4 linked regions of the Homo sapiens genome follow. The protein of the gene in region 1 interacts with the protein of each later gene in a biochemical or structural test. Each region holds a gene or a part of one and is shown in the gene's direction. Other genes may lie near its edges. The genes, in order: TGFBR1, CD44, RANBP9 and ENG.

Region 1 (4,626 bases):
GGGTTTTTGTGGTATGTCATTTGGTATTCTATTCTGAAAATGCCTTTCTCCTACCAAAATGTGCTTAAGCCACTAAAGAAATGAAGTGGCATTAATTAGTAAATTATTAGCATGGTCATGTTTGAATATTCTCACATCAAGCTTTTGCATTTTAATTGTGTTGTCTAAGTATACTTTTAAAAAATCAAGTGGCACTCTAGATGCTTATAGTACTTTAATATTTGTAGCATACAGACTAATTTTTCTAAAAGGGAAAGTCTGTCTAGCTGCTTGTGAAAAGTTATGTGGTATTCTGTAAGCCATTTTTTTCTTTATCTGTTCAAAGACTTATTTTTTAAGACATGAATTACATTTAAAATTAGAATATGGTTAATATTAAATAATAGGCCTTTTTCTAGGAAGGCGAAGGTAGTTAATAATTTGAATAGATAACAGATGTGCAAGAAAGTCACATTTGTTATGTATGTAGGAGTAAACGTTCGGTGGATCCTCTGTCTTTGTAACTGAGGTTAGAGCTAGTGTGGTTTTGAGGTCTCACTACACTTTGAGGAAGGCAGCTTTTAATTCAGTGTTTCCTTATGTGTGCGTACATTGCAACTGCTTACATGTAATTTATGTAATGCATTCAGTGCACCCTTGTTACTTGGGAGAGGTGGTAGCTAAAGAACATTCTGAGTATAGGTTTTTCTCCATTTACAGATGTCTTTGGTCAAATATTGAAAGCAAACTTGTCATGGTCTTCTTACATTAAGTTGAAACTAGCTTATAATAACTGGTTTTTACTTCCAATGCTATGAAGTCTCTGCAGGGCTTTTACAGTTTTCGAAGTCCTTTTATCACTGTGATCTTATTCTGAGGGGAGAAAAAACTATCATAGCTCTGAGGCAAGACTTCGACTTTATAGTGCTATCAGTTCCCCGATACAGGGTCAGAGTAACCCATACAGTATTTTGGTCAGGAAGAGAAAGTGGCCATTTACACTGAATGAGTTGCATTCTGATAATGTCTTATCTCTTATACGTAGAATAAATTTGAAAGACTATTTGATCTTAAAACCAAAGTAATTTTAGAATGAGTGACATATTACATAGGAATTTAGTGTCAATTTCATGTGTTTAAAAACATCATGGGAAAAATGCTTAGAGGTTACTATTTTGACTACAAAGTTGAGTTTTTTTCTGTAGTTACCATAATTTCATTGAAGCAAATGAATGAGTTTGAGAGGTTTGTTTTTATAGTTGTGTTGTATTACTTGTTTAATAATAATCTCTAATTCTGTGATCAGGTACTTTTTTTGTGGGGGTTTTTTTTTTGTTTTTTTTTTTTTGTTGTTGTTTTTGGGCCATTTCTAAGCCTACCAGATCTGCTTTATGAAATCCAGGGGACCAATGCATTTTATCACTAAAACTATTTTTATATAATTTTAAGAATATACCAAAAGTTGTCTGATTTAAAGTTGTAATACATGATTTCTCACTTTCATGTAAGGTTATCCACTTTTGCTGAAGATATTTTTTATTGAATCAAAGATTGAGTTACAATTATACTTTTCTTACCTAAGTGGATAAAATGTACTTTTGATGAATCAGGGAATTTTTTTAAAGTTGGAGTTTAGTTCTAAATTGACTTTACGTATTACTGCAGTTAATTCCTTTTTTGGCTAGGGATGGTTTGATAAACCACAATTGGCTGATATTGAAAATGAAAGAAACTTAAAAGGTGGGATGGATCATGATTACTGTCGATAACTGCAGATAAATTTGATTAGAGTAATAATTTTGTCATTTAAAAACACAGTTGTTTATACTGCCCATCCTAGGATGCTCACCTTCCAAGATTCAACGTGGCTAAAACATCTTCTGGTAAATTGTGCGTCCATATTCATTTTGTCAGTAGCCAGGAGAAATGGGGATGGGGGAAATACGACTTAGTGAGGCATAGACATCCCTGGTCCATCCTTTCTGTCTCCAGCTGTTTCTTGGAACCTGCTCTCCTGCTTGCTGGTCCCTGACGCAGAGACCGTTGCCTCCCCCACAGCCGTTTGACTGAAGGCTGCTCTGGAGACCTAGAGTAAAACGGCTGATGGAAGTTGTGGGACCCACTTCCATTTCCTTCAGTCATTAGAGGTGGAAGGGAGGGGTCTCCAAGTTTGGAGATTGAGCAGATGAGGCTTGGGATGCCCCTGCTTTGACTTCAGCCATGGATGAGGAGTGGGATGGCAGCAAGGTGGCTCCTGTGGCAGTGGAGTTGTGCCAGAAACAGTGGCCAGTTGTATCGCCTATAAGACAGGGTAAGGTCTGAAGAGCTGAGCCTGTAATTCTGCTGTAATAATGATAGTGCTCAAGAAGTGCCTTGAGTTGGTGTACAGTGCCATGGCCATCAAGAATCCCAGATTTCAGGTTTTATTACAAAATGTAAGTGGTCACTTGGCGATTTTGTAGTACATGCATGAGTTACCTTTTTTCTCTATGTCTGAGAACTGTCAGATTAAAACAAGATGGCAAAGAGATCGTTAGAGTGCACAACAAAATCACTATCCCATTAGACACATCATCAAAAGCTTATTTTTATTCTTGCACTGGAAGAATCGTAAGTCAACTGTTTCTTGACCATGGCAGTGTTCTGGCTCCAAATGGTAGTGATTCCAAATAATGGTTCTGTTAACACTTTGGCAGAAAATGCCAGCTCAGATATTTTGAGATACTAAGGATTATCTTTGGACATGTACTGCAGCTTCTTGTCTCTGTTTTGGATTACTGGAATACCCATGGGCCCTCTCAAGAGTGCTGGACTTCTAGGACATTAAGATGATTGTCAGTACATTAAACTTTTCAATCCCATTATGCAATCTTGTTTGTAAATGTAAACTTCTAAAAATATGGTTAATAACATTCAACCTGTTTATTACAACTTAAAAGGAACTTCAGTGAATTTGTTTTTATTTTTTAACAAGATTTGTGAACTGAATATCATGAACCATGTTTTGATACCCCTTTTTCACGTTGTGCCAACGGAATAGGGTGTTTGATATTTCTTCATATGTTAAGGAGATGCTTCAAAATGTCAATTGCTTTAAACTTAAATTACCTCTCAAGAGACCAAGGTACATTTACCTCATTGTGTATATAATGTTTAATATTTGTCAGAGCATTCTCCAGGTTTGCAGTTTTATTTCTATAAAGTATGGGTATTATGTTGCTCAGTTACTCAAATGGTACTGTATTGTTTATATTTGTACCCCAAATAACATCGTCTGTACTTTCTGTTTTCTGTATTGTATTTGTGCAGGATTCTTTAGGCTTTATCAGTGTAATCTCTGCCTTTTAAGATATGTACAGAAAATGTCCATATAAATTTCCATTGAAGTCGAATGATACTGAGAAGCCTGTAAAGAGGAGAAAAAAACATAAGCTGTGTTTCCCCATAAGTTTTTTTAAATTGTATATTGTATTTGTAGTAATATTCCAAAAGAATGTAAATAGGAAATAGAAGAGTGATGCTTATGTTAAGTCCTAACACTACAGTAGAAGAATGGAAGCAGTGCAAATAAATTACATTTTTCCCAAGTGCCAGTGGCATATTTTAAAATAAAGTGTATACGTTGGAATGAGTCATGCCATATGTAGTTGCTGTAGATGGCAACTAGAACCTTTGAGTTACAAGAGTCTTTAGAAGTTTTCTAACCCTGCCTAGTGCAAGTTACAATATTATAGCGTGTTCGGGGAGTGCCCTCCTGTCTGCAGGTGTGTCTCTGTGCCTGGGGGCTTTTCTCCACATGCTTAGGGGTGTGGGTCTTCCATTGGGGCATGATGGACCTGTCTACAGGTGATCTCTGTTGCCTTTGGGTCAGCACATTTGTTAGTCTCCTGGGGGTGAAAACTTGGCTTACAAGAGAACTGGAAAAATGATGAGATGTGGTCCCCAAACCCTTGATTGACTCTGGGGAGGGGCTTTGTGAATAGGATTGCTCTCACATTAAAGATAGTTACTTCAATTTGAAGGCTGGATTTAGGGATTTTTTTTTTTCCTTATAACAAAGACATCACCAGGATATGAAGCTTTTGTTGAAAGTTGGAAAAAAAGTGAAATTAAAGACATTCCCAGACAAATACTAAGACAATTTGTTGCCTATGGACGTCTGCCTTACAAGAAATACTAAATCCTTCACACAGAAAATAAATGACACCAGATGGTAACCTGAATCCACAGGATGAAATGAAGAGCACCAGAAATGGTGGATATATGTACAACTAGCAAAGACTGTATGATTGTATAGCTGCCATAAATTACTACAAATGCCCTGGCTTAAAGCAACACCTATTTATGATCTCAGAATTCCATAATTCAGAAGTCTAGGCATAGCTCAGATGGTTCTCTGCTCCATATTTTAAAAGGTCAAAATGAAGGCATTGGCTGGGCAACATTCTTTTCTGGAGGCTCGGATGAATAGGCTTCCAAGCTCATTGAGGTTGTTGGCAGAATTCAGCTCCATATGGTTGTAAGACAGGTTGGCCAGGGGTGGTTGTCAGTTTCTAGAAGCCACTCAAATTCTTTGGCTCGTGGTTCCCTCCTCCATCATCAAAACCAGCAGCAATGGGTTGAATCATCCTTGCACTTTTCTCGGAT
Region 2 (7,046 bases), on another chromosome or scaffold:
CTCTGTGGGTGAGGGGATCTTTTTTTTTAATTATTATTATACTTTAAGTTTTAGGGTTCAACCATTGTGGAAGTCAGTGTGGCGATTCCTCAGGGATCTAGAACTAGAAATACCATTTGACCCAGCCATCCCATTACTGGGTATATACCCAAAGGACTACAAATCATGCTGCTATAAAGACACATGCACATGTATGTTTATTGTGGCATTATTCACAATAGCAAAGACTTGGAACCAACCCAAATGTCCAACAATGATAGACTGGGTGAGGGGATCTTTGCTTGGGAATTGCATGCCTGGTGTTGAGAAAGAGGAGAGCGTCTGAGAGCCCTGGGTCTTAGGGCTGGCACACACCTTTCTGCTCCCTTCTCTCTAATTGAGCATTAGAGACTCCGCCCCCTGCTGGGAGTTAGAACTTTAGCTGTGTTTTCCCATGTGAAGGAGCAAAGAGGCAAAGCTTCATCTCTGTTGGGGCTAGCATCAACTAATTCAGGTATTCCCCATTTACACATTGGACATCTACTTGCTGCAAAGGCATGGTGACAAGTCCTTGTGTGGGAGGCTGGCAGCCAGTAGGAAAATGTTCCATTTGTTTTTTCCCAAATTTCCCCACAAAGGAGGGGATGCTGGACAGCATGAAATTCTTAGTTCATGACAGATTCCCTTCCATTCATTCAGGAACTATTTCCTGACTCATTGTCATAGACTCAGAGATGGGAACTCTAAGGATCATTTAGAAAATCTGAAAGAGAGGGACTAGTGACTTCCCCTCTCTGCGACTTGTTAAGATATTAGGGCAGGGCATTTCTCTCATGTATCTCTATCATGAGGACTGTGGGAGCCTCAACCCCACCCCCTGCAGTGGGTGGGGAGGGTGTGGTCTACTGGGGTAACAACATTTGTTTCACACCTTAAATACTACCTTACAGACTCATTACAGTTTTATATATTACTCTACAATATACCCAATTTGAGTTTAATACAATAATAATGATATATATTTTTGACCATATAGCAATGTTGGTGTTCGACAATGATTCTCTGTATTGTCCTGGGGCTTCTAGCACCTCCTGGAACATCGCTAGATGGTCAGGAGCACCAAAGTTTTAAAAACCTGATGCTCTGCTGTGGTACCATATGGTCCTGTGTAAAGCAGGGTCCTAAGTCCTGAGTCTCTAGGAAATACTGCTCAGTGAGCACTGACTCTATACTAGATGTGAAGCCGGGGGTAGCACAGGATATCTTATCTAAGCCTCCCAACAGCCCAATACACCTAGCACTCTCTTTAACTCCATTTTCTAGATAAAGAGATCGAGACTTGTGGAGATGGCATGACTTGCCCCAGGATCCAGTGGTGGAGTTGGGATTTCCGCATTATCTAACATCCTCCCATGTTAGACTCCAATGCTTATGCTCCTTCAATTCATTACGTGTCTGGAGGACTTTGGAAGCTATACGTGGCTCTCCCACACTACCTGTCCCCTGTGGCCAGCATAAGTGAACTCTTGCATGGGTGGCTTCTCTCTCCATCCCCGGCAGGCTGTGGACTCTTGGCTGCCCTGCCCTGGCCTGTCTCTCCCCAGGTTTGGCCACAGATATCAGAGATGCCAACCAAGTTATTTGTAACTAAAATAAATCACATCCCTTATCAGAGTCCAGCTGCCCTCCCAGATATGCTCTGATTTACAGGCTTGGAATAAAGAGAGAGGTGGTTGCTTGTCTACAGGACAAGTTAGGGCAATGCCCTCTGCCTGAATATTAGGAAAGCAGCATTACAGGAGCTCTCACTCTGACCAGGCAAGCATTTCACATGCACAGACCCAGAGACCCACTCCTCACATGCTCATTAGTAGGTTGTGCGACCCTGGGTAGGAGGCTGACATGGGTCTTGAACTGAAACCCAGTGTGTGGCTCTAGGTGACATGTGGCCACCCAAGTGAGGTTTCGGATCCACCTGCAGTGTCAGATGCTTCAAGGCTGGGGTCCCCTGATGGAGAGGAGGTGGTTGGAGATCACCTGGGCCTCCTCAGCACTGCCTCCTGGCTGGGGCTGGGGCTGGGGATAAGAGAGTAACTGCAATTGTGCTTCCCCGGCACCTTCGCTTTAGGTCACTCCACCGAAGAGCCTGAAAGGGAAGTGGTTCTTGCGAAAGAATGAGCTGAAGCAGGTGGCAGATGCTACCAGGCACCGTGTAGTTTTCAAAGGGGATCTTTTTCTGCCTCAGAGAGAAATTCTGGGGTTTGCACAGCAAGAAACCGATGACTCAATTTCCTTTGTGTCCCTGCTTTAATGGGAAGGTTGTAGGCGTTCTTTAGAATGGCAGGGTAGGTTGATACCTTCTACCTTAAATTTGAATCCCACTTTTCACTCACTTAGCAGGTTGAATTTTTTTTAAGTGTACCCCCCACAGCTGCCCAACTGGGTTTGCGAGGCAAGCCCAACTTGCCAGAGTAAACCGGAAGGGGTGCTTTCTAAAGTTTGTGGTTCTGGAGTCTGGCCAGGCATGGATACAGTCATTGTGCGTTCCAGATTTTCTGGGAGAGTCAGGATCTCAAATATGCAAACACTCTACCAATTGATGTCTAGTGCATATTTTGACTAAATGTTTATATATTTTTCCACAAATAAATACATGACTTAATGTAATTGAAAGTCAAACACTTTTTAAAAATGCTTTTTGCATAAAGAAATTCACATCTTTACAACTCCTTAACTAGGATGGTGTCAATTAAATTAATGTTTGATTCAGGACATGTGTACTTTGGAGGTAAGTATTTCATATTCCTCCCCTCTCCATTGCTCAATTGCCCCACTGGGTGACGTACCAAGATAAGCCACATGTTTGATTCTTGTTTGCTGGATGTGGACATATGCACATTGCAGGTATGCCTATAAGTACATGCCTGAAGGATCTATGTGTGTGGTGGGAATTGGTGATGCCAAAGAATGCTAAAGACTTTCATGCCCCTTAAAGGGGAAAATAACCACAACAAAACAAATTCCAATGTATCTTCTCCTGTCTTCTGCAGCACTGGGGGAGTCCCCTGATAACAGGGATCATGTCACATTCATTTTTGTGGGCCCAGATCCCAGTAATATTGACCCATAACTGTTGAACTGCAATGAATGTCTAGAATATAAAAGTCATGATATCTATATATATGGAAGCATGCTGTCAGTATGGGCTAAGGTGCAAATACATTTATGTGTAAGTGAGAACCATGGTGATGGCTGTGTTGCTCAGGACAGGGCTGACTTGGCTGGCTGACTGCCCACCACAGGCCTCATGTTTGGTCTACCCCAAACAGTGAGCTCACCCATCTGTTTGTTTGCGGCTTTGGTGGCTGCCTGCTGTGACCGCTGGGGACATCTGGCTAAAGACAGGGTTACTAGATAGTTGGGCTGAGAAGGGAGTGGGAGCCAGTGAGATGAGGACACCAACCCCAAATTTAAGCCTCAAAACAAAAACACTCCCCAGCAGCAGCCACCTTGGGGTTCTAGTTATTTTGGAGATACTGATACGAGGTTGAGATCCTTGGGTGAGAGGCCCACACTCCTCCAACCCCCATGTCTGCTTCTGGAAGGTGGTGGCAGAGGAGAGAAGTAGAAGTACTATATGGGAGATGCGGGAGATTCTTGCCTTCTCTGTCGGTCTCTTTGGGCAATTATCAAGCTGTCATCTGACCAGATACTACCATAGCTTCTTCGGGGGCAAATCCGTAGGGAATCCTGACATCCGACGGGGAGCCACTTTGGCAATGGCAAACGGTGTCTCCTCTCCACAGAGCTTGTGATGTCAGAAATTACCCATAACTGGGGCAGGTTTTGTCTTCCCAAAGATTGTCTGCCCAGCTAGACCTGAGAGACAGGGAGACAAACACAGAATGAGGGGGTGGGTCTTGTGGGGGTGGGGAACGATGGAAACTCACAGAGCCAGATCTCCCCGAGTTTGAGTTGCACTGGCTGCCTGGGTGTGTCCTCCTGAGGTAAGTGTCCCTGCGAAGTGCAAGTGTGGGCAGACAGATCTCAGGTGGGTGGGGAGGGACTGAGTCACCAAGGAGGTGATTTGCAAAACTCAGGTCCCAGAAACTTTCAGGTCTTCAGCTTTTAAAAGTAAAGGTTAATTGCAAAACTCCGGGGTTGAGGGAAGAGATTATTCACATAGACCAGTCATTTTGAGCATCTGCTGTTGTGGCATTGCAAGTCTCCTTCGCAGTGCCTGAAAGTTCATTTGTTTTTGAGAGCTCTTACGCTTTTTCTGTTTGCATCTTTGCACAAGTTCTATGTTTCTGAGAACCCTCACCACTATTAGTAATAATAGCAAACACTTACAGAGTGTTGACCATGTACCAGCGCCATTCTAATTGTTTCCTATATACTGCCTTGTTTAATCCAAACACTGACTTCATGAAGGTGGTGCTGTTATTATCTGTCTTTTACATATGAGGAAACTGAGGCACAGAGAATTTAAGTAGCTTGCCCAAGGCCATGCAGCTGATAAGTGATGGCGCTGGGATTCAAACTCACATCTGGCTACAGAGTTCATGCTCTTTGTCACTATGTTAGAGTGCTTCTCTTGGTATATTAAGATATCGAGGCACCCTAGAAATCCAGACGATTGTACCTGGAAGTACTGTAGTTGTTTTCAAAAACTTCATTTGGGAATCTAGTTGTGGGTGAGGTCATAACATCCACTGAGCTTTTAAACATGATGTCAGAGGAAGGGGTTAGAATTGCAAAAATGAAGGAGGAGGAAGTTGTAATGGAAACTTCTGCCAATGCATATTCTGAGTTGACTCATTCATTCTGATCTCTGAATAGAAGCTCTACTCTCTTCCATGTGATGGAAAGTTGAGGATAGGGTAGGGCTGAGAGGGATGTGAATTGAGTTGTTTGTTCATTAGGATAGGATAGGGCTGAAAGGGATGTGAATTGAGTTGTTTGTTCATTATCACTTCATTATTTGTCACCTGGATGAAAGGTAAAGGTGGCTGATTAGTGTTTCTCCATCAGCTAGAACTTTGACTGGGAAATGAGCCAATCAAATAGCAGCAAAATATTTGCCCTCACCTTACAGGCCCTTGGTTCCAGGGTCTTCTCTCCACCGGCTAGAATGGATGAGGGAGGGAGAGAAACTCTGAGAAAAGAGGCTGTCAGGAGTAGGGCTGTACATATCCAGGGCACAAGGAATTTGGCAAAAGCTGGAAGTATACTATAGCCCTTCTCTCCAGCCCTAGCCTAAACCAGATGACCAGGCTTCTATTTGGCCCAGCATGTGACCATCCCATCAGGGAGCAAGAGAGTTTCCTCTGGGTACCCCTCACTGAGAAAAAAGCCACCCAGGAAGGGAGGAGGCAAGGCCCCCTGGGAACATCTGGCTCAGTCCACAGGAAGGGATGCAGGCCTTTTCCTGGGAATGAGGACTCATCCCATATTCCAGCCCCCTTCCCCCAACTTTTTTTTTTTTCAATTTTAGTGCATCTCTTTACACTTAACAGGTCTGCAGTGACTTCTAGGAGGATCCACACACCAATCGTGGAACTAGGCAGCATCTTTTTCCACTTCCTTTCCAAGATAGTAGCACGATAACAGTAAAGCCCCTTTGCAAGTGTTCACTATTATGCACATTAAGATGCCAGGGAGAGGGCTGGGAAAGGTGGCTCACACCTGTAATCCCAGCACTTTGGGAGGCCGAGGCAGGCGGATGACCTGAGGTCGGGAGTTCGAGACCAGCCTGACCAACATGGAGAAACCCCGTCTCTACTAAAAATACAAAAAAATTAGCCGGGCATGGTGGTGCATGCCTGTAATCTCAGCTACTTGGGAGGCTGAGGCAGGAGAATCACTTGAACCCGGGAGGCAGAGGTTGCAGTGAGCCAAGATCACGCCATTGCACTCCAGCCTGGGCAACAAGAGCGAAACTCGGTCTCAAAAAAAAAAAAGGTGCCAGGGAGAAATGAACAATTCCATGCAGCCAACACCTGGTCTCCTGCGTTTGGCTTAGAAGGGCATTTCTGCCCAAGCCCCCAGCTCTAGTCTTTGCACACTTTAAATGAGTAGCTACTACATGCCAATCACAGATGTTGCCTCTGCTGAGTATCCAGTCAAAAAACCAGAATCTAACAGAGCTAACTAAGCACCATCTTGCAGGAAACCAGCTGACGTCAGCTCCGCAGCCACCAGTGAGTTACTGGGCCCACATCTGCCTGCAAGAGGGGGAGGGGAATTCAGGTAACCCACAAGAGGGGATAAAAGTTCGGGGAAGAAATCTCCTGTCAAGGAGTTTGTTTTTGCAGTGGATCCTCTGCAGTGAGACTAGTTGTCTTTACAATATCATTAGAGGTCAGGTACATTCCTGTAGACTCCCTTAAGTGACTTGCTTTCTCCTATTGTTCCCCCTGAAAATTCATAAAAACCTCACAAACACATCTCCATTTAAAAAGAGAAAGTTTAAAGGATGCCATGTAATGGTTATCTCTTTTCTTTTGCCAGTGAGCATAAAAGCTCCTTAGGGAAAAGCCCAAACCCTCTATACATTTTCATATTCATGATAGCCCTGAGCGGTCAGCACAGTTCCCCAATTATAGTGGGTGCTCAATAAACACTTGGATGGCTTACTGAATTAATAATGTTTCTAGACTTGGCTAGCAAAGCCATCTCCGTTACTTATCTTTTGTGATTTTTATAGGTTCTGTCTAATTCTTTTTCTTCATTTTTTTTCTTTCTGGTCTATACAAATCTTCTTTCATTTTTCTCTATTGCTACTTGTAGCGATCCTCAACCCGCCTCCTCCCTTGAAATTTCTGTTCTCTGCACTCTCTTCAGTCTAAAGAGATCTTTCTTGAGGTTTGAAATGTTACACAAGGCAGGGGAAGTTTAGAGCTAATTGTATTTTGTCCAGTAGAACGGGGATCTGGATTTCCTATAGGTCTGGCTGCCTCTTTGTCTACACCTTTACTTCCAAATCTGGCCTCATGTATAAAAAGACCCCAAACCTTAAAATCATGTTCTCAACAATACTCAGAGAAAAATTGTTGGCTTTTTGG
Region 3 (7,046 bases), on another chromosome or scaffold:
ATTTAACATATTCACACAGAAATTATCCGCTCTTGATCTTTACCTTGTTTTGTACTGAAAAATACTTGTTATAACTATTAAAGATATAAGACATAAATACAGAAAATGAAAATATGGTAGGATTTGGAGTTGCAAGAGGAAAAATCAGTTTTGGATGTGGTATCAGACAAACTTGTGTTCCAATTCCATCTCTGCCATTTGTTAGCAGAACGACCATGAGCAAGTTATTTAACCTTGAATCCTCATTTTCTCTGTCTTTGAAGTAGAAATAATAATAGTGGCCTCACAGAATTATGATTAAACCCTGGCATTTAGTAGCCACTCAGAAACTCATTCTGCCTTTAGATGTAACAACCAATTAGTGACATAGCCAAAAGAATGACCCCTGTATTTTTTGTTTACTTGAAGTTATCACCTTTTCATCTTGATTAACCTTGAAACCATGGAGTGTACCTGAATGCATTTCTGAGTTTGGGTATATTCAGATTCATCCTTTTCCTCCCTTGAAATACATATATTTGAGGTTTTGTGTTTTTTTTTTAATATAGAGAATCTCCACTCTTCCTGGCACTGTGTTTTGCTTATAGTTATGGTCTTATCCCCTTCCCTTTGTAAAGTTAGGCATCCCAAATATACAGAATGAAAACAGTAAATTTAAGCTATTAAATGCCAGACTAGCTGAGATCATACTTTTATGATAACTAGCTTTAACATGCAGTTTATAGAAATGTATCATATATAAAATGTGGGATAAACCTGAGTTATGTGTTTATAGTTGAATTTCTGTAACTACTATATGACATAATCTTAGAACAAGAATTACATGCACATATATTAGTAGCATAATACCACGTGGTATAATACAACGTAGTCCCTGAATAAATAAAACAGAGATCTTGGGTCTCTTTGTTTTTTCTTGATGATTACATTGCAGGAAGTGATATTTTTTCATCTAACATATAATGTATTTTAGATCATTTGTTTTAGCCTTCTAATATTTTGATTGGGATTTTAAAATATGAAGTAAATTTATAGTTCTATTCTTTTAAATGTAACATTAAAAGAATTATTAAATCTAACATAAAATGGATAGATGTTTAATGAAATATGCTATCTTACAGCCAAATTTGTATCCTACTGTGGGGCTTCAAACACCAGGAGAAGTGGTCGATGCCAATTTTGGGCAACATCCTTTCGTGTTTGATATAGAAGACTATATGCGGGAGTGGAGAACCAAAATCCAGGCACAGATAGATCGATTTCCTATCGGAGATCGAGAAGGAGAATGGCAGACCATGATACAAAAGTAAGAGTGAAGAAATTTCAATTGATGCTATTCAGAATCTGTTTTTTATAAGACATTTATTCTGTTGGTATCCACAGAAGCTTTTTAATCCACTAATTTATATACTGACATATCTATTATATTATTGATTTTAATCTCTCAACGAAAAGTAATTTACTCCACTATTTAAACAAATTAAAAACAATTGTTTGACACACGTACAGAATTGTATTTCAGTCTGAATTAATTTGATGAAGGAAATAAAATGATGTTAGGTCACCTAGGCTAGGTTAATTCATTTGCTATTCTTAGTAATAGGATTTAATGATTTCTGTAGGTTATACAATTTAACTTTTAATAATGTTAATGGAAAAGATAAAGTTGAGAGATAATCTAGATCTTATAATCAGGATCTGTGGTTTTTGGTCATGAACTTGGCTATGTCCAAGCTCTTAATATCTGAACTATCAGCAGTAGTTAAGTATGGACTTAAAATTTAAATAAATACCATTAAATTTAAAAAGTCCTCTTCACTATTATAATCCAGGTCAAGAAAATAGCAGACTTTCAGATACAGTTGGTCCAACACATTTCATCTTTAATGTCCTTATAATTGCTTTGAATATTCTTAACTTTAAAATTGTAATAAAATGTTGGGGGTATTTTTTAGAAAAGGAAGTGATTGGGAGACATGATGATGACTCTGAAATCACACTTCGTCCCTGGAGCTATTATCATCTGTATTACAGAGATTGGACACTAGTTTTTTTGTCCAGCCCAGTTGAGAATAGACAACCCTGATGCAGAATCCTATAGTCACCACGAAGTGAAGCTAGAATGGGTTGTTCTGGGGCCACACTGTTTTAATGCTCTGAAAATGGTTACCACTGAGTATCATGGCAAGATAGTAGAAAACATTTATCTTAACCTTATAACCAGGATCCTTCCACCCACTTCTTCACTGACTTGATGTTCACCATGAACTCTTGAGAAGTCCATTCTAAAAGGTCCCCTCCCCCTTAAATTAATTTGAACAATTGGGTAAAATAAGATGCAGATCTGTTTCTTAGACATTTTCCTCCCTTTTCTCCCTCCGCTCTTTGCCTCAGTCTCCTCCTGTGGTGAACCACTGCTTCCCACGATTTTCTAACTGGCCCTTAGTAGTGTCAGGTGGAGGCAAGTTTAAAAATTGACTGTTTGGAGATAACAGATATTTGGGTTAATATTGTTGCATCACCAGTTTTTCTAACCACATCTTGTGGGTAGATGTAAGTATATGTTTTGACTACCTGGTACGTTTTTAAAAGATTATTGTCTTGGAAATGTGTCACTTACATGTAAACCATATTTGATAAATCTCTTGGGTAAAACCATAGTAATTGATTTAGATTAGAAGGCTGATTCCTCCTTTAATTAGTAGTACACTTATAGACATGTTCTGGAAGATTGTCTCTCTGGATTCACCTTAGTATTCTGTACATACTTTGTGATCCCACTTCATTTAACCGGTGTGTAAAGAAGATGGTTGAACTCTGGAACATTAAGAGTTAATCTTTTATTTTAAAGTTGGTTATTTTACAGAATGCCAGCAATACTGGAATAAGTCATATGATAAAGTCAAAATAGAAATTATGGTTAGTAGGGCTGAATAATAAGATAGGAAGGGACCTGGGGGTAATGAGAGTCCAAGAATCAAAGAAAAGGTCATTTAATGTCCTTGATTCTCAAGTAATATTTATTTTAGGGAGAGTAGTCTCAACATAGCATTTGCAGTTATCTTTTCGAAAATAGTACATGAATAGAACAAAATGATGTTTTTCAAAAGCTTACTTTAAAGGTGAGGTTCTTAACGCCTTGTTTCAAGGAAATAGGTTCGTTTTTATAACACCAGAATAGATTTTGTTTATATAAATTGTAGTATGAAGCATGTATTCTCTTCACTAAAAGATGTATGTTTCTTCTTTTTATTTTAAGAATGGTTTCATCTTATTTAGTCCACCATGGGTACTGTGCCACAGCAGAGGCCTTTGCCAGATCTACAGACCAGACCGTTCTAGAAGAATTAGCTTCCATTAAGAATAGACAAAGTAAGGACACTGTGGTGCATGGCTAACATTTGTTTTCAGATTATAGATTTGGTTACTTTAATTTTTAGAAATTTTGTTTTTTTAATTAAAAAAATTTCAAATATATTAATTTAAAATGGATGCCTCTGAATTTTATTTTCACTGACATTTTTGAAGATCAGTTTAAAAATTCACATAGGACTATGTCAGAATTCTAATTCTAGAGAGATTTTACAGAAGTTTTTTGAAGGAATGTCTTTACCATTTTTTTCTTAAATGTTTTCTTAAGCTTTCAGGAAATAAACATTTAATAAAAAGATTTAAAAATAATAATAAAGTAGTCCTGATTAGTTGGAGGAGATAGTATGTGAAAGAAATGTAAATATCTTTGAATTTAAATGGCTAATACAGTATTGATCCATAAGTATTTATTATTTAGATCCTAGTGCTGGCCTCTGTGGCCAGAGATAAAACAGGTCCTGTATAACAATGGCAAGTCAGCATAACTGGTCCATAGTTAGCCATCCTAAAATTGGTGCTGTTTGTCCATCAGGGTGGGTATGACTTGACAAGAGTATAGAGATGAAAACAAAATAGATGGGTGAAATTAATGGGTGAAAACAACTATTTCATAGGTCAAATTGCTGTAATAGCACTGATTACATTGGGTTGTAGTTAATTGTGTGCTGTCCTTTTCTACTATTTTAATAAGCTCTGTTGAACAGAGATCACTTACTCATTTTGTATCCTTATCATCTAATTTAACATATAACAGATCAAGTGAATGCTCAACGAGTCTCTGTTAAATTGGAATCTTAGTCAAAAGCTAGCATTTTTCAGTCCTTTGTTCAGAAGATTATGTTTGATAAGGCATTTTAGTATCCCTTTAAAACAGTCTTTTTAATCTCAGTGTTTGAAACTTCAATATTGCATAATAGGTATTTTAACTATATTACTCGTATGTTCGTGATTTTAAAAAAAAAATTTGTGACCGTACTTGTTTTTCTAATTTTCTAGTATGTCTGAAATGTTTCCTGGATTGCCTAATGGAAACTATGATGTTAGAGAAAGAAATTGAAATTAATCATAATTTATTTAAAGATTTCTTACTAACTTTCTTTTCTGAGGTCACTAAGTTTATGTTTTATCTACTTTTGTAAAAGTTAATCGTTTGCTTTCTTTTACTGAATAGGAATTCAGAAATTGGTATTAGCAGGAAGAATGGGAGAAGCCATTGAAACAACACAACAGTTATACCCAAGTTTACTTGAAAGAAATCCTAATCTCCTTTTCACATTAAAGTGAGTTTGCATAATAAAATGCTATATTTGTTATATATTATAAATATTTGTCAAGTTATGTAATAAAAGACATTTTCGTGCTTTTGTAATTTTAGTTTTTTTCGTTTTTCAAGTATATACAATTTTGTAATGTCATTTAAGCAACATGTTATGAAAAATACTTTTGTGTTAAGGACCATAAGCAGAAGGTGTCTTTTGCTATGTATTTGCTTTTATTATTCTATTTATGTGTTTAAAAATGTGAAAATCTTATTTAGAAGATGGGTGTCTATTTTTCCTTCTCAGAAGTACCTTACATTTAATCTCTCTGGCATTTTAAAAAATTGTGGTAAAATATACATAAAATTTACCATTTTTTACATTCACATCATTGTGCAACCATCACCACCATCCGACTCCAGAACTTCTCCATCTTCCCAAACTGAAACTCTCTATTAAACACTAACCATCCATTCATCCCCCTAGCCCCTGGAAACCACCATTCTACATTTTGCCTCTATGAATTTGACTACCCATATAAGTAGAATCAGAGTATTTATTCTTCATTACTGGCTTATTTTAGTGTAATAGCCTTAAGGTTCATCTTTATTGTAGTATGTATCAGAATTTTCTTCCTTTTAAAGGCTGAATTTTACTCCATTGTTTGGATAATACTGCATTTTGTTTATCCATTCATCCACTGATGGACACTTAAAGTTTGCTTCTACCTCTTGGCTGTTATGAATAATTCTGCTGTGAACATAGGTGTACAAATATCTGAGTCCCTGCATTAGATTTTTTTGGTTATATACCCAGAAGTGAACTTTCTGGATCATATGGTAATTCTATGTTTAACTATTTTTTTTTAATAATAGCCATCCTGATTTGACAATTTTAATTGGTTTTATGAATCTTTGTTACTTAAAAAATGAGATGTTACTGAGCTTCAGATTTCAACTTGTTAAGCAACAGATATCCTTTGTAAGTCAAATGACAGAATTGTTTTGCTTTAGAATAAGAATTTTAAATGAGGCCCATTTTGGTTAAGAGGTTGGGAATGGGACGGGTGGGGAGAAAGGCTACGCTTTATATGTATCTCATATACATAAAATCATGTCCTTAGGCACAATTTGATTTGCTACCAAGCGCAAATGTTATTTTGATTAAATTACTTGTAGCCAAAAAAATGGGGTTCATATCTTCTTATAGGTAAATTTCCATTTGGTAAATCCTGATTAAAGGGGGTAATATTATTATAGTGTCTATTACATTGTACTCTCATTTTTCTGGAAATTCTAAAATTCTAAGCATTAAAGCATAGGACACCATATTTAATATTTTTAGCTTACTAAAGACCAATCCTACTGATAAATCAAAGTTTTAAAAATATTTTTAGAAATCTGTTGCTATTAAATAAAAGGCCATTTGAAGATTGTGTCTAAGTAAATTTTTCTTTTCTCCTTTAGAGTGCGTCAGTTTATAGAAATGGTGAATGGTACAGATAGTGAAGTACGATGTTTGGGAGGCCGAAGTCCAAAGTCTCAAGACAGTTATCCTGTTAGTCCTCGACCTTTTAGTAGTCCAAGTATGAGCCCCAGCCATGGAATGAATATCCACAATTTAGCATCAGGCAAAGGAAGCACCGCACATTTTTCAGGTGAGATTTAACTTATGACATTATTTTTAGATTTTTCCTCTTTATAATCTTAAACCTTTTTCCTTTTGAAAATCTGTATATTTCCAGCTGGGCACGGTGGCTCACGCTTGTAATCCCAGCACTTTGGGAGGCCAGGGTGGGCGGATCACGAGGTCAGGAGTTCGAGACCAGCCTGGCCAACATGGTGATAACCCCATCTCTACTAAAAATACAAAAATCAGCTGGGCATGGTGGCAGGTGCCTGTAGTCCCAGCTACTCGGGAGGCTGAGGCAGGAGAATTGCTTGAATCCTGGAGGCAGAGGTTGCAGTGAGCTGAGATCACGTCACTGCACTCCAGCCTGGGTGACAGAGGGACACTCCATTTGTCTCAGAAAATCTGTATATTTCCTTTGTAGCTGTTTTCAAATGTGTATACTTAAGATTTTTCTGGGTGAAAAATTGTAGGTTCAGATTGACATGTTCTCAGTACCAGGAAGTCACTTGAAGAACAGCTGTCTGAGAATAGGTTATTAGCAGACCTTCCTAAATGAAAGTCAGCATTCACAATGAGTAGTCACCAGAATTAAATTATTGATTTTTAATAGTGAAAAGGTAATTGTGTGTTTTAATAAAATATAAATTTAAAGGTGATGTGGCTGTGATACCTTATGCCACTGGTTACCACATCTAGCTGGGCTGCCGCTGCCTCCCTCCTCTCCCCCCACCCCCAACCTTTCCCAACCAAGCCTCTTGCAAAAGTCAGCTCTGCCTAGTTCGT
Region 4 (7,000 bases), about 29 Mb from region 1:
CCCAGCACTTTGGGAGGCCGAGGCGGGTGGATCACAAGGTCAGGAGATCGAGACCATCCTGGCTAACACAGTGAAACCCTGTCCCTACTAAAAATACAAAAAATTAACCGGGTGTGGTGGCAGGCGCCTGTAGTCCCAGCTAATCGGGAGGCTGAGGCAGGAGAATGGTGTGAACCCGGGAGGCAGAGCTTGCAGTGAGCTGAGATCGCACCACTGTACTCCAGCTTGGGTGACAGAGAGAGACTCCATCTCAAAGAAAAAAAAAAAAGCCTATACAATATGATCACTGCCTGGTTGACAAACAAATATATTTGTTATAAAAATAACACATGGTGAATACAAAATATTAGCCAGGCATGGTGGTAGGCGCCTGTAGTCCCAGCTACTTGGGAGGCTGAGGCAGGAGAATGGCCTGAACCCGGGAGGCGGAGCTTGCAGTGAGCCAAGATCATGCCACTGCACTCCAGCCTGGGCAACAGAGCAAGACTCGTCTCAAAATAAAATGAAAGAACACATGCTGGCCAGGCACAGTGGCTCACACCTGTAACCCTAGCACTTTGGAGGCCGAGGCAGGCAGATTGCCGGAGCTCAAGAGTTTGAGACCAGCCTGGGCAACACGGTGAAACCCTGTCTCTACTAAAATAGAAAAAATTAGCCGGACGTGGTGGTGCACGCCTGTAGTCCCAGCTACTCAGGAGGCTGAGGCAGGAGAATCGCTTGAACCCGGTAGAGGGAGATTGCAGTGAGCTGAGATTGTGCCACTGCACTCCAGCCTGGGCGACAGAGCGAGACTCCATTTCAAACAAACAAACAAAAAACATGCTTTAAAAAATATGTGAAAATTAGAAAATCTTAACCTTCTGACACAAAGACAATGGCTGCCAACATTTTGGTGTGCTTCTTTCTAGAGCGTTTTCTCTGTGTATTTCTTATATTGATGTAATCATAAGAGATGTGTTCATTTGTCTCTTACTATTTCACTTAATGTATTTTTAGAGCTTTGACAGCTGTACCTAATATCATGTTTAATAAGCACATATTATTCCATCATATTGACATGCTATAATTAACTCCTCTTCCCTTGTTACACATTTAGGTTGTTCCCAATTCTGTAGTATTATAAATATGCAAAAAATGTCATTGTGCATGAAACATTTCTTTATATAGGATTATTTTCTCAGGATAGATTTCCACATTAGTGGAATTACTGGGTCAAAATGAATGAAGTTTCAATACATGTTGCCAACCCACTTTCCCAAAGATGATTTGAATTTTCACCACTGATTTACGAGAACACCTCAACCTCTTCGCTGTCTCCAGACTATAATTCAAAAAAAGAGAAACCTTTGCCAGTGTGGGAAGAGGCACATGGCGTTCCATTCTTGTTTTAGTTGTAATTCTCTGGTTAGTAGTGAGTGTGGGCATGGTTCCACGTGAGTGATGAGAACCTCAGTCTCCTTATCATTGAGGCTTGGTATTTTTCTTGATGATTTTTATAAGTTTTAATAAAGAAAAAAAGGTTGCCCCTTTGGCCACCACTTCCCTTGATTTGCTGTAATTCTTTCAATTTTGGCTACAGTGGTTTTTCTTTTCTTTTCTTTTTTTTTCTTTGAGACAGTCTTGCTCTGTCACCCAGGCTGGAGTTCAGTGGTACAATCTCGGCTCACTGCAACCTCCACCTCCCGGGTTCAAGTGATTCTCCTGCCTCAGCCTCCTGAGTAGTTGGGAATACAGGCGTGCACCACCACGCCTGGCTTTTTTTTTTTTTTTTTTTTTTTAAGACAGTCTCACACTATTGCCCGGGCTGGAGTACAATGGCACAATCTCGGCTCACTGAAACCTCTGCCTCCCGGGTTCAAGCAATTCTCCTGCCTCAGCCTCCCGAGTAGCTGGGATTACAGGTGCCCACCACCACTCTTGGCTTATTTTTTGTATTTTTTTTTTTAGCAGAGACGGGGTTTCACTATGTTGGTCAGGCTGGTCTCGAACTCCTGACCTTGTGATCCGCCCACCTCGGCCTCCCAAAGTGCTGGGATTACAGGTGTGAAATCAGGCGCCTGGTCCGCAGCCTAGCTACTTTTTTGTATTTTTAGTAGAGACAGGGTTTCACCATATTGGCCAGGCTGGTCTCGAACTTCCGACCTCAGGTCATCTGCCTACCTCAGCCTCCCAAAGTGCGGGGATTACAGGCGTGAGCCACTGCAACTGGCCTTCTTTTTCTTGTTTTAGAGACGAGGTCTCGCTCTGTCACCAAGGCTGGAGTGCAATGATGTGATCTCGGCTCACTGCAGCCTCCTCCTCTCAGGTTCAAGCGATTCTTGTGCCTCAGCCTTCCCAGTAGCTGGGACTATGGGTGTCTGCCACCACACCTGGCTAATTTTTATAATTTTAGTAGAGTCGGGTTTCACTATGTTGGCTAGGCAGGTCTCGAACTTCTGGCCTCCTGTGATCTGCCTGCCTCTGCCTACCAAAGTGCTGGGATTACAGGCGTGAGCCACCACGCCCAGCCTGTGCTAGACTTTTATATGACCGGCAGTGCAATAAGTTTGCTTACACCAGCATCACCACAAACACTAGGCAATAGAAATTTTTCAGCTTCGTTATAATTTTATGGGACCAGGGACCACCATCATATACACAGTCCATCACCGACCACAACATTGTCCCATGGTGCATGACAGTATTTACTATCTGGCTCTTTATAGGAACACTTCGCCCACGCCAGGCCTGAGACTGGATTATGCTTGCAGGGTTTGCATGCCCTTGGGGCTGTGAGTGATGATTATATGTGGAACTTGAAGGAATATATATATATATATTTTTTTTTTTTGAGACGGAGTCTCGCTCTGTTGCCCAGGCTGGAGTGCAATGGTGCGATCTCGGCTCACTGCAAACTCCGCCTCCCGGGCTCACGCCATTTTCCTGCCTCAGCCTCCCGAGTAGCTGGGACTACGGGAGCCCGCCACCACGCCCGGCTAATTTTTTTGTATTTTTAGTAGAGACGGGGTTTCATCATGTTAGCCAGGATGGTCTCGATCTCCTGACCTCATGATCCACCTGCCTCAGCCTCCCAAAGTGCTGGGATTACAGGCGTGAGCCACCGTACCCGGCCTGAAGGAATATTTTTAATAGTTCTGTATTTATTTTGATAGATATAAGAAAATTTGGCCAGGCGCGGTGGCTCACGCCTGTAATCCCTGCAATGGGAGGCCGAGGCAGGTGGATCACCTGAGGTCAGGAGTTTGAGACCAGCCTGGCCAACATGGTGAAACCCTATCTCTACTAAAAATACAAAAAAGTAGCCGGGCATGGTGGCACGTGCCTGTAATCCCAGCAACTCAGGAGGCCAAGGCAGGAGAATCGCTTGAACCCAGGAGGTGGAGGTTGTAGTGAGCCAAGATCGAGCCACTGCACCTGGGCAAAAAGAGTGAGACTCCATCTCAAAAAAAAGAACTTTTAAGTGGTGTAGGATGATGACATCTAACAAAAATGAAGAGGGAGCAGGGCAGGGGAATGGCTGTGACTTGGGACCCCTGGGTTGTGGTCAGTCCTTGGTGCTGGGGTGTGGCAGGCCACAGAGACCCCAGTGCCTCCTGATGGTGCCCCTCTCTTCCGACCCAGCATTTGAAGTGCACCATCACGGGCCTGACCTTCTGGGACCCCAGCTGTGAGGCAGAGGACAGGGGTGACAAGTTTGTCTTGCGCAGTGCTTACTCCAGCTGTGGCATGCAGGTGTCAGCAAGTATGATCAGCAATGAGGTAAGAGCTGGGGCCAAAAAGGTATCAGGACCAGCCTGGTTGGTGCCCCCTCAGGTGCCCTCCCTGATCCCCCAGGGTGGAGGTGTGTTTGGGAGAGCAGGCTGCAGGGGCTCAGAACACAAGACAAGCTTGGCCATTGGTTGGCTTAGTCTCCCCATCTGCAAAAATGGGCGTATTGGGTGGGATACCCTCTGGGGTCCTTTCTGGCTCTGACCAGCTCCCTGGCTTTATCCCCGCAGGCGGTGGTCAATATCCTGTCGAGCTCATCACCACAGCGGGTGAGATGGACAGTCACGTGCTAACCCACCTGGCCCAGGGGCTGCTGCTGGGCCGGGGCCTCTTCCTGGCCTGGGAGGGAGCAGGCCTCGGGAAACTCCTGGCAAGCCATGTGTGTCTGGAATGCCTCGGTCTCCCCTTCTGTATGACCGGAGCAGGACTGCTGAGGGTGACGCTCTTGGTCTCTCAAGTCAGAGGGCTTAGCACATACTGGCTGTGTGGCCTTGGGCAAGTCACTTTAGTTTTCTGGGCCCAAAGGTGGCCTAAGAAAGGACTCTGCGCCACAGGGTGCTTCTGGGCAGCCAATGAGGTGCTGTGTGGAAGCTCTTCACACAGCCTGGCAGCTGGTGCCTCCTTGATAAATATTAGTTTAAAAAAAAAAAAAAGGGCCGGGCGCAGTGGCTCACGCCTGTAATCGCAGCACTTTGGGAGGCCGAGGCGGGCAGATCACGAGGTGAAGAGATTGAGACCATCCTGGCTAACATGGTGAAACCCCGTATCTACTAAAAATACAAAAAATTAGCCGGGCGTGGTGGCGGGCACCTGTAATCCCAGCTACTTGGGAGGCTGAGGTAGGAGAATGGCATGAACCCGGGAGGCGGAGCTTGCAGTGAGCTGAGATCGCACCACTGCACTCCAGCCTGGGCGACAGAGCGAGACTCCGTCTCAAAAAAAAAAAAAAAGAGAGTCAGGCAACTCCACAGGGCCATGATGCCTGTTCCTCCCCACACCCCTCGCCCTCCTGGCTGGCGCCGCCAGATTGACCAAGTCTCCCTCCCGTCCTCCCCCAGAAAAAGGTGCACTGCCTCAACATGGACAGCCTCTCTTTCCAGCTGGGCCTCTACCTCAGCCCACACTTCCTCCAGGCCTCCAACACCATCGAGCCGGGGCAGCAGAGCTTTGTGCAGGTACCTGGCATGCCTGTCACCCCTCGGGCCTCCCAGCTCCTGGAACTTCCTCTCCGCCTTTCTTCCCACCATGACTCCAGAGGAGATGAGACTCCCAGAGTCAGGAGGGAGACAGCCTGGGTGCACGGGAGAGGGAGAGACAGAGAAGGCATTGCTCAGGGACACTGACAAGGATGTGGCCCTGTCCTCCTCCTCTGCCCCAGACAGGTCCATGTCTTTCTTTCCACTGTGAGGACTCAGGGGTGGGAACTCTTAATTCTAGCCGATATTTGAAGGCAGCAGGTGGGGTGGGGTGAAGAGCAGCTGCCCATGCCGCGTGGCCCTACCTACCCATGCAGGTCAGAGTGTCCCCATCCGTCTCCGAGTTCCTGCTCCAGTTAGACAGCTGCCACCTGGACTTGGGGCCTGAGGGAGGCACCGTGGAACTCATCCAGGGCCGGGCGGCCAAGGGCAACTGTGTGAGCCTGCTGTCCCCAAGCCCCGAGGGTGACCCGCGCTTCAGCTTCCTCCTCCACTTCTACACAGTACCCATACCCAAAACCGGCACCCTCAGCTGCACGGTAGCCCTGCGTCCCAAGACCGGGTCTCAAGACCAGGTGAGTGGGGCCTGGGCCGGCCCCAGCTTCAAGTGGGAGCTTCCAGGTCTGTGGTTTGCAGGAAGGGACATGGCAGCCCACAGGGATGTGGGGCCAGCTGGTGAGGGGCGGAGCCTTAATCAGGCATGTGGCCTGGCAGTCTGGCTGCCAGCAGCACTTTCTGCCACCCGAGAGCTTTCTGGTGGGACTGCTGTGTCTGGGGCACTGGCAGACTATGCAGCTGCCACTGTCCATCTATCCATCCATCCATCCTTTCACTTACCCGTCCGTCCATCCATCCATCCACCCTCCCACCCAGGAATCTAACCACCCGCACATCCATGTAGTATGGTCACCAGTGTAATCTCAAAGAACAGGAGACCTGAGGGAAGAGAGGCGGACAAAGGACACACACTCCTGGCTTTCTGTATTTGCCAGTCACAACACTTCACCATCTGGTGACCCCCACTCTCAGGCAATCTATCCTGGACGCCCCCAGAGTCACCCCCAGGCCCTTGCACAGACAGGCCTCCAGGATTACAAACTTCTCTGGTCATAGGAAGCTAGGGAAGCCTTCAACTCCCCTAAGTGGGCCTCTCCCTCCAGCCAGAGTGAGCCTGGGACTCTGGGCTGACCTGGCTCATAGCTCCAAAGTGTTCACAAGGGTGAGGGATGCATAGTGCTTCCACAGTGCTCCTGGGCATCAAGGCCTCCAGGAACTCACAGGAAACATTTCAGCAGCAGCCAGGGATCGTCCACTAGGCACCCTCCCACAGCACAGATCTTCCAGGACTCACCCAGAGGCATCCAGCTACGAAGCGGTGGAGATGGGATTCAAAGCCAAGGCTCTAGGGTGGGCTGGGGTCACGGAGCCAGGGAGTAAACCTGGAAGCCGCCTCCCAAAGGTGCCACATACTGCTCTCTCTTTCTCCTCCAGGAAGTCCATAGGACTGTCTTCATGCGCTTGAACATCATCAGCCCTGACCTGTCTGGTGAGCTCCCTCCAGGTCTCTCGGGTTTGTTCTAGTGGCTGAGGTCACAGTAGGGCACAGCGGGCAGCCCTGAGAAACGGCCTGGGCACATAGCACATGGCAAGGGGGACCCCAGAGAAAGCGGCCCAGAAGGGGCAGGAGGAGGGCTTCCCAGAGCCATAGCAGCCTAGAGCAGGGGCCAGAGCTGCACTTTGCAGATGGAGAGCCCTTGCCCGGGACCGCCCTGTGGGGTGGGAGTCTAGGCCTCTGCCCCCACTCACGGCTCCACTCCATCCCCACAGTTATTGGCTGACCTTGCTGGGAGGATGGAGTCTCCTGGGTGAGACAGAGGCCCTTTGAGGGTGGGTGCTGGCCTTGCCTTCCTTGAGGCCTCTCCCTGCAGGACGCCCCCTCTAGCCTCTCCATCAGTTCCCCCCAGGCCCAGGCCCACACCAGGCAGAAGAGTCCCGACACTGGTGGCAGAGGCAGGGGTGAGGGATGGGGGCACCTA

The links.
Region 2: the proteins of TGFBR1 (region 1) and CD44 form a complex in vitro, tested with the Homo sapiens proteins (one study listed by BioGRID).
Region 3: the proteins of TGFBR1 (region 1) and RANBP9 form a complex in vitro, tested with the Homo sapiens proteins (one study listed by BioGRID).
Region 4: of the proteins of TGFBR1 (region 1) and ENG, one has a biochemical effect on the other in vitro, tested with the Homo sapiens proteins (one study listed by BioGRID).

Annotation. Positions count from the first base shown.
Region 1 is NC_000009.12:99,150,084-99,154,709, forward strand, and holds the end of TGFBR1 (TGF-beta receptor type-1 isoform 1 precursor), read left to right. Parts: 3' UTR 1-4,109; downstream 4,110-4,626. UniProt on the Homo sapiens protein: Transmembrane serine/threonine kinase forming with the TGF-beta type II serine/threonine kinase receptor, TGFBR2, the non-promiscuous receptor for the TGF-beta cytokines TGFB1, TGFB2 and TGFB3.
Region 2 is NC_000011.10:35,142,162-35,149,207, forward strand, and holds part of CD44 (CD44 antigen isoform 1 precursor), read left to right. Parts: intron 1-7,046. UniProt on the Homo sapiens protein: Cell-surface receptor that plays a role in cell-cell interactions, cell adhesion and migration, helping them to sense and respond to changes in the tissue microenvironment.
Region 3 is NC_000006.12:13,638,805-13,645,850, reverse strand, and holds part of RANBP9 (ran-binding protein 9), read left to right. Parts: intron 1-1,121; coding exon 1,122-1,306; intron 1,307-3,259; coding exon 3,260-3,372; intron 3,373-4,543; coding exon 4,544-4,652; intron 4,653-6,097; coding exon 6,098-6,288; intron 6,289-7,046. UniProt on the Homo sapiens protein: May act as scaffolding protein, and as adapter protein to couple membrane receptors to intracellular signaling pathways. Acts as a mediator of cell spreading and actin cytoskeleton rearrangement.
Region 4 is NC_000009.12:127,816,659-127,823,658, reverse strand, and holds part of ENG (endoglin isoform 1 precursor), read left to right. Parts: intron 1-1,138; exon of another isoform or gene 1,139-1,321; intron 1,322-2,160; exon of another isoform or gene 2,161-2,464; intron 2,465-3,621; coding exon 3,622-3,759; intron 3,760-3,998; coding exon 3,999-4,037; intron 4,038-4,826; coding exon 4,827-4,943; intron 4,944-4,947; exon of another isoform or gene 4,948-5,059; intron 5,060-5,269; exon of another isoform or gene 5,270-5,281; coding exon 5,282-5,539; intron 5,540-5,801; exon of another isoform or gene 5,802-5,900; intron 5,901-6,315; exon of another isoform or gene 6,316-6,455; coding exon 6,456-6,510; exon of another isoform or gene 6,511-7,000. UniProt on the Homo sapiens protein: Vascular endothelium glycoprotein that plays an important role in the regulation of angiogenesis. Required for normal structure and integrity of adult vasculature. Regulates the migration of vascular endothelial cells.